Regions from separate parts of the Homo sapiens genome. Here region 2 is linked to region 1. The links come from fine-mapping of genetic effects on gene expression. A gene starts in region 1. The other region holds a variant in brackets. All regions are shown on one strand. Distances are between the middles of the regions.

Region 1 (5,376 bases):
CAATCTGCCTGGTAGCTGCGTCAGTGACATTTAGAGCCTCTATATGCTCAGTGTCAGTATTTATGACCTTAGCAATTGTCTTCCTGGCTTTGGAGGCTTTCTTGGTTCGGATGGAGGCTGCTGTGGTGTGGATACTGGCTGTCTCATTGGTAATTTGGCCTTGGGTGGTAGCTGTATGGGTGGCAGTTGCAGCCAGCGAGACCTCGGTGGCACTAGCTATGGCCTTATTTGCAGCCTTCTTAGCCTTGGAAGCTTTCTTAGGCTTGATAGAGGTTATCAAGGCTTGGGAACTGGCTGACTCATTGGCAATTGGAGCGTGAATATTCTGTGAGATGACTGGTAGCTTTAGGACCTGCAAGGGTGACTTCAGCTGTATAGTGCCACCCTCATGGCCAGTTGGGGATTGGGAGCCTTGGGCTGCCTTGGCAGTAACTCTCTTCATCTTGTTGGCTTTCTTAGGCTGAGCAGTGACTGAAGAAGCCTGAGTATTGGTTACCTCAGTGGTAGGTAAAGCCTGGCTGATCTGGGTAATGACTGGCAGGTTTAAAGCCTGCCAAGTTATTTTGGGCTTGTTGGTGGCAATCTCATTGGCAGCTGGGACTGGAGGGGCAGCAGGTGCAGCCTTAGTAATAGTCTTTATAGGGGCCTTCTTGGTCTTGCTTTTCTTAGGCCGGTTGACAACTGGTGGGTCCATGGCCAGGGAGTCCTTGGTTGCCGCCAACAGGGTATGCATCAGCAGGACACTGTCCTCTTCTGTGGTCTCAGTCTGTATATCTGGAGGGAAGGGAAGCCCCAGGCTCCCCGGGGGAGGCAGAGGGCCCTACACACTTAGGATTACCATCCTCTGGGCCATTTGGCCTCGCTAAAGCCCATCCCTTTCCACAAAGGCCTTCCCTTCCTCTGAGCAGTGGTTAATTAAAATGGGGTAGGGAGCAAGGAAGGAATAGAGTCAGGCAGGTTTTCCTCTCCTCTCCTTCACCATGTAAGGGAGGACTGAGACGAGTTAGGCAGGGAATTATGAAACTACACGGTGGAAGGGGTCTGAAGAGCAGTAAGTGAACTCAGGATGGGGCAGATGGCCTAGAGAGAATGCAGAGAGGCCTCACCTGAAATAGAGGCACCCTATATCCGTAGTCATTTCTCCTATCCATCTTTCTGGGAGGCCGAGTAACAGGTGAGCCTGAGGGGAATGGGCCTGAGTTAGAGAATGAGAGGGAGGGGGAGATTCATCAGACATCTCACCTATCCTGACTTAGGGGAGTCTCATGTAACCTTGGGCCCTAATCCCTTCAACTCCTGGGTTTTCATACCTAAAAAACCCAGGCCATCTGGTTTCCAAGGCCCAGCTCCTTTTGCCTCCGAGAGAGTCAGTTCTACGACCCCACCCCTTTACACGCCCCCTCCGCAACTCGATAGTGCGCATGCGCACCGACTAGAGGCGCCCCCACCCCCCATCTTAGGCCCACCTCTATCCCAAAAGAACCATTCTTCAATGCCCTCCGCGCGCATGCGCCTTGGTAAACCGGACAGTTTCTAACCAGCTCAATCCCACATCTGCCCCCTGCTCTCAGAGCAACAGAACATCTTGGCGCCACCCCGACCCACTCTTTCTAACTGCATCACATCTCGATCCAACCCTTCCCCCAACACTAGCCCCCTCCCTCCGCTCTGCAGTACCACTCCGCACCGCCCCTACCCCAACACCGCCCATCTCTCCTCTGCGGTACTGCCACGCACCGCCCCTTCCCAATACACCCCCCTCCCTCCGCTCTGCAGCATTTCTCTTCATCTTCCCTTCCTTTAATAAGCCCCCTCCCTCCGCTCTGCGGTACGTCTCTGCACCACCCCTTCCCCAACCAACACCACTCCCCCCTCTTTCCACGTCTGCAAGTGTGCAGCTCCGCCCTTTCTGCAACATGAATACCTCACCCCCAAATCCAACTGTATGAACCTTCTGTGTATTCCTGTTCTCAAACCCTACCAGGTCCTGTCTCTTCCCTTTCAAACCGGAACCAACCGGGTCATATCCCCTCCTTTCTCCTGTCTGAGTCTGGTCCTTTCCGTTGCTCAAAAGGGATGCTGCCCACTCTTATCTCTGGGTCCCGATCCCTCCATTCTGTGGCCCAAACGGGGTACTGCCCCCTTTCTCCAGCCTAAACGGAGTCCTGCCGTCTCCTATCTCCCTCCCGAACTGTGTGTATCCTCCTCCCCTCTTGCTACCGTCTGAAGGATTTCTCGATCCTTCCTTTCTGCGGTCCCAACTAGGTCTGCATCCCTCCCTTTCACGGCCCGAACCGAGTCCAGATCGTTACTTTCTGTGGCCCAAAGGGGATTCTGCCTCCTACTTCCTCCCGTGCGAACTGGGTCCAGGCACCGCTAAAGGCGACTTTGATGCGGTTAGGTCCCAAACCTCCAGCAGGTTTTCTTCAAACCTTAGGGGCGTGTGGAGTCAGGCACGTCGAAGCCGCAGCCAGGAAGCCCCCACAGGGTCTTCACTAAAGCCAGGTACCTCAGCTCACCTCGTCTTCTTGAATCCAGAAGGCGTCTGCTCTCTCCAAGCCTCTCCTTGTGTCTGAGCCTATCCCCCTCCCTGGCCGGAAGTGGTCCTGCCTCTTTCCGCCTCCAGAGGGGGGTCTCCGTTCCTGCCTGTCAGTCTCCTCCCCTCCATACCTACTTTCAACTTTCCATTCTCCTCAATGTAGCTCCCTTTTTCTTCTTACTACCCCTATTCAGTTATCACTCCCTCTTATTCTCCATTTGACTTCTCTATTCCCCACTCTGTATCTCCGTTCCTATTTGATTCTCCTGTTTCCCCTAGGAGGAATGTAGTTCTCTGAACTCCCACACCAACCCTTCCTACAGACCCTCTATCCCAACACTATTTACATAGTGTTGTTATACCTTGTGTCTATGTCTCTCTTCCCTAGAGCTGCTCTGGAGCAGGGGACTAGGTCATATTCATTTCTGTTTTTCAAGTGTTACCACATTAAAACATTTAGAGGTTCTAAACACTAAAAGATAGGGTGCCCGTCCATCTTATGCAATTCAGAATAAAAACAGTAATGTATAAAAATCTATGAAAAGTTTTTATTGATCCCACAATGACTATATTGATGTTTTAACAATATCAGTTTGTACTTAGACTGTCTCTTGTGACATGGTGCACTGTGCCCCCATGCAGAAAACAATTCATGACATTTATCTATTCCATCAATCATTCAAAAGAGAGCAAGGATAACTACACATATGTCAAATAAAATAGACTTAAAGTCAAAAACCATAAAAGATCTTAAAGGTCATTATATAATGATAATGAGATAAATTCATCGTGAATATCGAATAATTATAAACATATTTAATATATGCACCCAACATAGAAGCACCTAAATATATAAAACAAATATTAATAGATCTGAAGGGAGAAGTAGACTGCAATACAATAATGGTAGGAGACTTCAAGACCCCATCTTCAACAATTCACAGATCATCCAGACAGAAAATCGATAGGGAAACATTGAACTTGAAATACACTTTAGACAAAAAGGACCTACGGAATATTTTATCCAATAGAATATATAATATTCTCAAGCACACATAGAAAATTCTCCAGGATAGATCATAAGTTAGGCCAAAAACAAGTCTTTTTTATTTTATTTTATTATTATTCTACTTTAAGTTTTAGGGTACATGTGCACAATGTGCAGGTTAGTTACATATGTATACATGTGCCATGCTGGGGTGCTGCACCCATTAACTCGTCATTTAGCATTAGGTATATCTCCTAATGCTATCCCTCCCCCCTCCCCCCACCCCACAACAGTCCCCAGAGTGTGATGTTCCCCTTCCTGTGTCCATGTGTTCTCATTGTTCAATTCCCACCTATGAGTGAGAATATGCGGTGTTTGGTTTTTTGTCCTTGCAGTAGTTTACTGAGAATGATGATTTCCAATTTCATCCATGACCCTACAAAGGACATGAACTCATCATTTTTATGGCTGCATAGTATTCCATGGTGTATATGTGCCACATTTTCTTAATCCAGTCTATCGTTGTTGGACATTCGGGTTGGTTCCAAGTCTCTGCTATTGTGAATAATGCCGCAATAAACATATGTGTGCGTGTGTCTTTATAGCAGCATGATTTATAGTCCTTTGGGTGTATACCCAGTAATAGGATGCCTGGGTCAAATGGTATTTCTAGTTCTAGATCCCTGAGGAATCACCACACTGACTTCCACAATGGTTGAACTAGTTTCCAGTCCCACCAACAGTGTAAAAGTGTTCCTATTTCTCCACATCCTCTCCAGCACCTGTTGTTTCCTGACTTTTTAATGATTGCCACTCTAACTGGTGTGAGATGGTATCTCATTGTGGTTTTGATTTGCCTTTCTCTGACGGCCAGTGATGGTGAGCATTTTTTCATGTGTTTTTTGGCTGCATAAATGTCTTCTTTTGAGAAGTGTCTATTCATGTCCTTCACCTACTTTTTGATGGGGTTGTTTGTTTTTTTCTTGTCAATTTGTTTGAGTTCATTGTAGATTCTGGATGTTAGCCCTTTGTCTGATGAGTAGGTTGCAAAAATTTTCTCCCAGTCTGTAAGTTGCCTGTTCACTCTGATGGTAGTTTCTTTTGCTGTGCAGAAGCTCTTGAGTTAAATTAGATCCCACTTGTCAATTTTGGCTTTTGTTGCCATTGCTTTTGGTGTTTTAGACATGAAGTCCTTGCCCATGCCTATGTCCTGAATGGTAATGCCTAGGTTTTCTTCTAGGGTTTTTATGGTTTTAGGTCTAACGTTTAAGTCTTTCATCCATCTTGAATTAATTTTTGTATAAGGTGTAAGGAAGGGATCCAGTTTCAGCTTTCTACATATGGCTAGCCAGTTTTCCCAGCACCGTTTATTAAATAGGGAATCCTTTCCCCATTGCTTGTTTTTCTCAGGTTTGTCAAAGATCAGATAGTTGTAGATATGCGGCATTATTTCTGAGGGCTCTGTTCTGTTCCATTGATCTGTATCTCTGTTTTGGTACTAGTACCATGCTGTTTTGGTTACTCTAGCCTTGTAGTATAGTTTGAAGTCAGGTAGCGAGATGCCCCCAGCTTTGTTCTTTTGGCTTAGGATTGACTTGGTGATGCGGGCTCTTTTTTGGTTCCATATGAACTTTAAAGTAGTTTTTCCAATTCTGTGAAGAAAGTCATTGGTAGCTTGATGGGGATGACATTGAATCTATAAATTACCTTGGGCAGTATGGCCATTTTCACGATATTGATTCTTCCTAGCCATGAGCATGGAATGTTCTTCCATTTCTTTGTATCCTCTTTTATTTCATTGAGCAGTGGTTTGTAGTTCTCCTTGAAGAGGTCCTTCACATCCCTTGTA
Region 2 (5,384 bases), 120 kb after region 1:
CCCTGCCCATTCAATGTCCCACATTGTCAGTTTTATCTTTCCTTTTACATTGCCCTGGTTATTAACATTTACATTCTGTTCTGCAGCCACAATCAGATCTTCCCTGCTTTGTCTCCCCAGGTTGACTCTATGACCTGAAACCCAATAAACAGCATTCACATTATCATGGCTATGTAAATATTTTTCAAAATCTAGCCAAGCAGTGAGCCTGGAATACGCTTCCTTCTCTTCAAGTTCAATGTCACAATCTTTGGGCCTCTCAGAGGAGAATGTTTCTAGCATCAAGGTCAAATGGAATCTTTCTTATACTCTTATCAGCTGCTCATAATCATATTACATTTTATTTTGCTTTGTATTTGGCCAAGACTTTCTTGAATAATTACACACACACACACACACACACACACACACACACAGAGTTTCTAAAAGCCTTTCTTTTTTCCTTGAATTATATGCTTTTATTGTATTCACTCATTCAACAAGTATTTTTTGAGTGTCTACTACGTGTCAGGTACTGTTCTAGGAGATTAGGCTAGGCAGTGAAGAAGACAGATAGCAATCCTTGGCCCCCATGGAGCTGATTCTAGTAAGGGAGAGAGAAAAGATAATAAGATAAATCAGTAAAATGTATCCAAATTAAAATGTGTGATAAGTGCTATGGAGAAAAATTTCAGTTTTAAATAGGCTTGTCATAACAATGTGTTGTATATTTCAAAATAGCTAGAAAAGATAAGTTGAAATTTTCCCAACACATAGAAATGATAAATACTCAAGGCAATGGATACCATAAATACCCTGACTTGATTATTACACATTCTATGCATGTAACAAAATATCAGTGTATCCCATAAATTTATACAAATATTATGTATCAATAACAAAAAAGTTAAAAAATAAGTAAATAGGTTGGTCAGGGAAACACTCACTGAAAAGGTAGCATGTGGGCAAAGACTAGCATAAGGTGAGAGAACTAGTCAAGTGGATACTTGGTGAGAAAACATTCCAAGCAGAAAGAACAGTCATTGCAAAGGCCATGGGACAGGATCATGCCTGGCATTTTTTCCCCATGCCTGGCACTTTTGAAGAACACAATGGCCAGAGTTGCTAGAGTGATGGAGGAAGGCAGGAAGGGAAGTAATAGGAAATGGGGTCAGATGGGTAATGAGGGCTTGCCTCACTGACCCCTCTCACATAGGGCCATGTAAGCCACAAGCAGGATCCACAGGAGAGTTTTGAGCAAAAAGGGGACAGGATCTGACTTGGGTTTCAAAAGGATCCCTCTGGTTGTTGTAAAAATATACTGGTGGGAGGCAGAAAAGGGGATGATGAAGGCTGAAGCAGGAGGACCAGTAAGGAGGCTGCTGCAGTTATTGCTTGAATTGGATTCACTGTTTCCTGGCTTCACTGTTTCCTGGATTCACTGTTCTGGGCACCTGTCTGGAGATCCTTCTTCAGGTGTAGGAAATTATTATAACTTCTAATATATCTATTTTTTTGAGACAGGGTCTCACTCTGTCTCCCAAGCTGGAGTACAGTGGCACAATCATGGCTCGCTGTAACCTCGAACTCCTGGGCTCAAGCAATCCTCCCGCCTCTGCTTCCCAAGTAGCTGGGATTTACAGATGAGAGCCATCACGACTGGCTATTTCTTTTTACTTTTTTTTGTAGAGTCAGGGTCTCACTATGTTAGCCAGGCTGATCTCAAACTCCTGGCCTCAAGCGATCCTCCCGCCTCAACCCCCCAAAGTGCTGGGATTACAGATGTGAGCCACCACATCTGGCCTAATATGTTTTCAATAAAGTTTCCTTCATTGTTTTGTTTTCTCTATCTAGAACTCCTATTATTTGAATGTCTAATTTGCTAGATTAATCCATCTCTCTTAAATTTTCTCTCACATTTTCTGTTGCCTTGGCTTTTTTGCCCTACATTCTGGAAGATTTCCTCATTTCCTGGTCCTGGAAAATGTATTATTTCAGTAAC[A/T]TATTTTTAATTTCTAAGGAATCTCTGTTTTCTCTGATTGTTCCTGTTTTATGGCATCTAGTTCTTGTTTTATGCATGTTATATCTTCTTGAATCTTATTCAGAATAGTATCAATTTTTCCCCTGAAGTTCTCTTTTGTTTCCCAGATCCTCAAATTGCTCTAGGGTCAGTTGTTCTATTTGTTTCTTTTAGTATTTTGCTTTCATGCTACAGGCTTCCTTAATTTGCTTGAGGCTCCTTGGCTACTCATTCATATTTAAGAGAAAAGGACTGGGTAGCCGATGGGAGTTTTCTCTGTTGCTGTATAAGCAGAGCTGTTCTCTAGCTAGGACTCTCCCTCGTGAGGAAATCCTGAGAGGAAACTTGGTGCGGACTTGTGCGAGGTGGCAACTGACAGGTTTTGGGACCCACAGATGCCAGAATGAGAAGACTTTGTTGGGATGCCAAATGCCCTAGGACAAATCTGAGTGTTCCTGGGGCAGTTTGTAAAATGTCATCAGAGATTTTGCCCCTGAGAGTAAGTACTGGAGCTGTCTATGCTCCCTGTGTGGATGGGTAGAGGCCGGAGGGCCAGGGTCGGCAGGATTCTGACTGAGGCTGATAGTCCTTGTGCAGACCTTCAAGTACTTTCCTTTTTCTCAGCCCCATTCCTCACCCCCACCCTCCACAGGACCTGCAGATCCTGAGTCCAGAGCACCTCAGCTCCTCCCTTCTCCCTCCACTCAGGTCTCAGAGGACAGGGAGCTTTCCAGACTTTTGATCTCTGTCATGCCTCATCCTGCCCTCCTCCTAGCAGCTATTTACTGATCACTTACCATGTGCCAAGCATTCTAAAAGTACAAACTCACTTAATCTTCATAAGAACTTTATGAAGTAGGTGCTATTACTATTCTTATTTTATAGATGAAGAAACTGAGGCTACAGAGAGGTTAATTAACTTGCTCAGTATTATACAGTCAGTAAGTGGCAGAACTGAGATTCAAACCCATGTGGTCTGGGTCTGGAGCCTGTATTTTGAAACCACTGTGTTATATTCTTTCTCAGTCCTGCCCCAGCCTGTCTTGGCCTCTGGCTATTCTAGAGATTGTAAGTCTTATTATGTCTATGGGACCCCTAAATTGTTATAGGATCCTGAGTAAGTCCCTCCCGGCACTAGGCTAAAGTCAATAATACCAGGGAAGACCAGTATTGGGGGCTTGCCTTGCCAATCCCTCTCTCATCGCCACTACCTTTTTAAGATGATCAGTGCTAAGTGACCTTTCTCTGGCCCCAGTTACTGGGCTCCTGTGGATGTTTATAGGAAAGAAAAACCCCACCCTGAGCCAACACAGCAAACAGACAGACCCAGCACTCTGGTATGTTTAGTTTCCATTCATCTTACAGCTGGATGAGGGGAAAAAAGGAAGCGTAGAACTGGCCCTTCTCCAGGCAAGATGCCAGCCCCAGCTCTTGGACAATCCTGGCTTGTGTGAGCCTCAATGCCACATTCAGAGCCTTCCCCACCCTTCAGGATGGTCCCTCCCTCTCAAGAGAAGGGATACCTGGAGGTTTAAAAGAGCAAGGGTTTGGAGATCGGGCTCAGATCTTCTGGATGTGAACAACAGATCCAGGCCAGAGGTGGCATCATGTCTGGGTGGAGGTACCTCATCTGTGTCAGCTTTTTGCTGACCATTCTTCTTGAACTGACATACCAGGGACCCCCTGTCCCCGCTTCATCAAGCACAAAGGTCAGTTCTGGGATGAGGGAAAAAAGCTTGGGGATTTGTGATAAAATTAGCTTCTTGGGGGAAATTTGGGAAGGTTATTCAGTGTGTTTCTTCAGTCCTATGACTGAGAAACTAGAGCCAGAGAAAAGAGGTACTATTTGCTGAGCACATGTCAGGTGCTGCACCAGGGGTCCCAGAATTATTATTTCATTTAGTCCTCACAGCATCTCTGTGAGCTGGGCTATATTATTATCCCCATTATAGAGAAGAGAAAACAGAGGTTCCAAGGTTAAGACACAGTTAGGAAGTGGCAGAACCGTCTGATCTCAAATCATCCTCATTTCCCACTGCCCCACACTGGGAAGGAACTAGCTCTGCATCACGTGTGGGTAGATAGAGGGACCATTGCCTCAAGAAAGGAGAGGAAGAAGATAGATATTGTACTTGCTGTGTGCCCTCATCATGGATGCCAGATACTTACCATGCTTGCAGTGCATGATTGTGCTTATAAGTGCAACTCTTTACACCTGAGATCCTAAAGAAGAAAAAAATCAGTATTTATCACAGTGCCTTGGACAGAGTAGGATTCAATGAATGGCGGATGCTCTGCTATATTCTAAAGCCTTGCTACTCAAAGTGAAATCTGTGGACTAGCAGCAGCATCATTCCATGGGAGCTTTTTAGAAAGATAAAATCTCAGCCTTCACCCTAGTCTTGCTGAATCAGAATCTTCATTTTAACAAGCTTTCCAGGAGATTCATGTGCACATCAAAGTTAGAGAAGTGCTTGTCCAGAGAGGTCCCTTGATCTCTAATCTTCTGTGAGTCTTGGGTTCTGAGACTTGATAAAGCTTGCTGAAGTAATCAGGCAGATCCACCAAATGGATGACAGAGGTTGTTTTCCCTCTCTAGGCCTTAGTTTATCCACCTGTATACTTTGAGGCCTGTGTAGGAATCTTGGGTTCCCAAAGACTAGCCCATCTAGGCTGAGGACATAGTCTACCTAAAACACCTCCTCCTGTCTTCTCTCTCAGTTGTTAATGACAAGCTATTCTATGCGCTCCACGGTGGTGTCTCGCTATGCCCACACCTTGGTCACCTCTGTCCTGTTTAATCCACATGCTGAAGCCCATGAAGCCATCTTTGACCTGGATCTGCCTCATCTTGCCTTTATCTCCAATTTCACTATGTAAGTCTGCTTCCAAAGTCACCACTTCATTCATTTGTGCATATATTTGTTCGTTCTTGTGCTTATTCTGTCAGCAGAGCATAGTGATTAAGACAATGCACTCTGAGATCAGACTTCTTGAGTCTGAATCCTGGCTCTGCCAGTTTGGGACCCAGGGCAAGTTACTTCATTTCTGGGAGTCTCATTTTACATATCTACAAAATGGGGATAAAATTAGAACCCACTTTCTTTTTTTCTTTCTTTCTTTTTTTTTTTTTTGACATGGAGTCTCGCTCTGTTGCCCAGGCTGGAGTGCAGTGGCACAATCTCAGCTCACTGCAACATCCACCTCCCAGGTTCAAGCGATTCTCCTACTTCAGCCTCCCAAGTAGCTGGGACTACAGGCGCATGCCACCACACCCGGCTAATTTTTTGTACTTTTAGTAGAGACGGGGTTTCACCGTGTTAGCCAGGATGGTCTCAATCTCTGACCTCGTGATCTGCCCACCTCGGCCTCCCAAAGTGCTGGG

Alleles and levels. Alleles are on the strand shown, and positions count from the first base shown. SD is a standard deviation of normalised expression in the study named.
For the expression in adrenal gland of the gene that starts at base 2,574 in region 1, A is the high allele of the variant in region 2 and T is the other (moderate effect, 0.43 SD a copy in GTEx).

Evidence for each region. PIP is the estimated chance that this variant, and not a neighbour inherited with it, causes the effect.
Region 2: its variant is fine-mapped to the expression of TRO in adrenal gland (GTEx, PIP 0.97).

What each region holds. Positions count from the first base shown.
Region 1 is chrX:54,918,022-54,923,397 of GRCh38, reverse strand. TRO (trophinin) reads right to left here and starts at 2,574. Exons shown (of 13, transcript NM_001039705.3): 1 at 2,520-2,574; 2 at 1,107-1,195; 3 at 1-820. The coding sequence starts at 1,151.
Region 2 is chrX:54,796,433-54,801,816 of GRCh38, reverse strand. It overlaps ITIH6 (inter-alpha-trypsin inhibitor heavy chain family member 6), which reads left to right and starts at 3,562. Exons shown (of 13, transcript NM_198510.3): 1 at 3,562-3,708; 2 at 4,721-4,875. The coding sequence starts at 3,607. The variant A/T (reference allele first, on the strand shown) is at 1,982.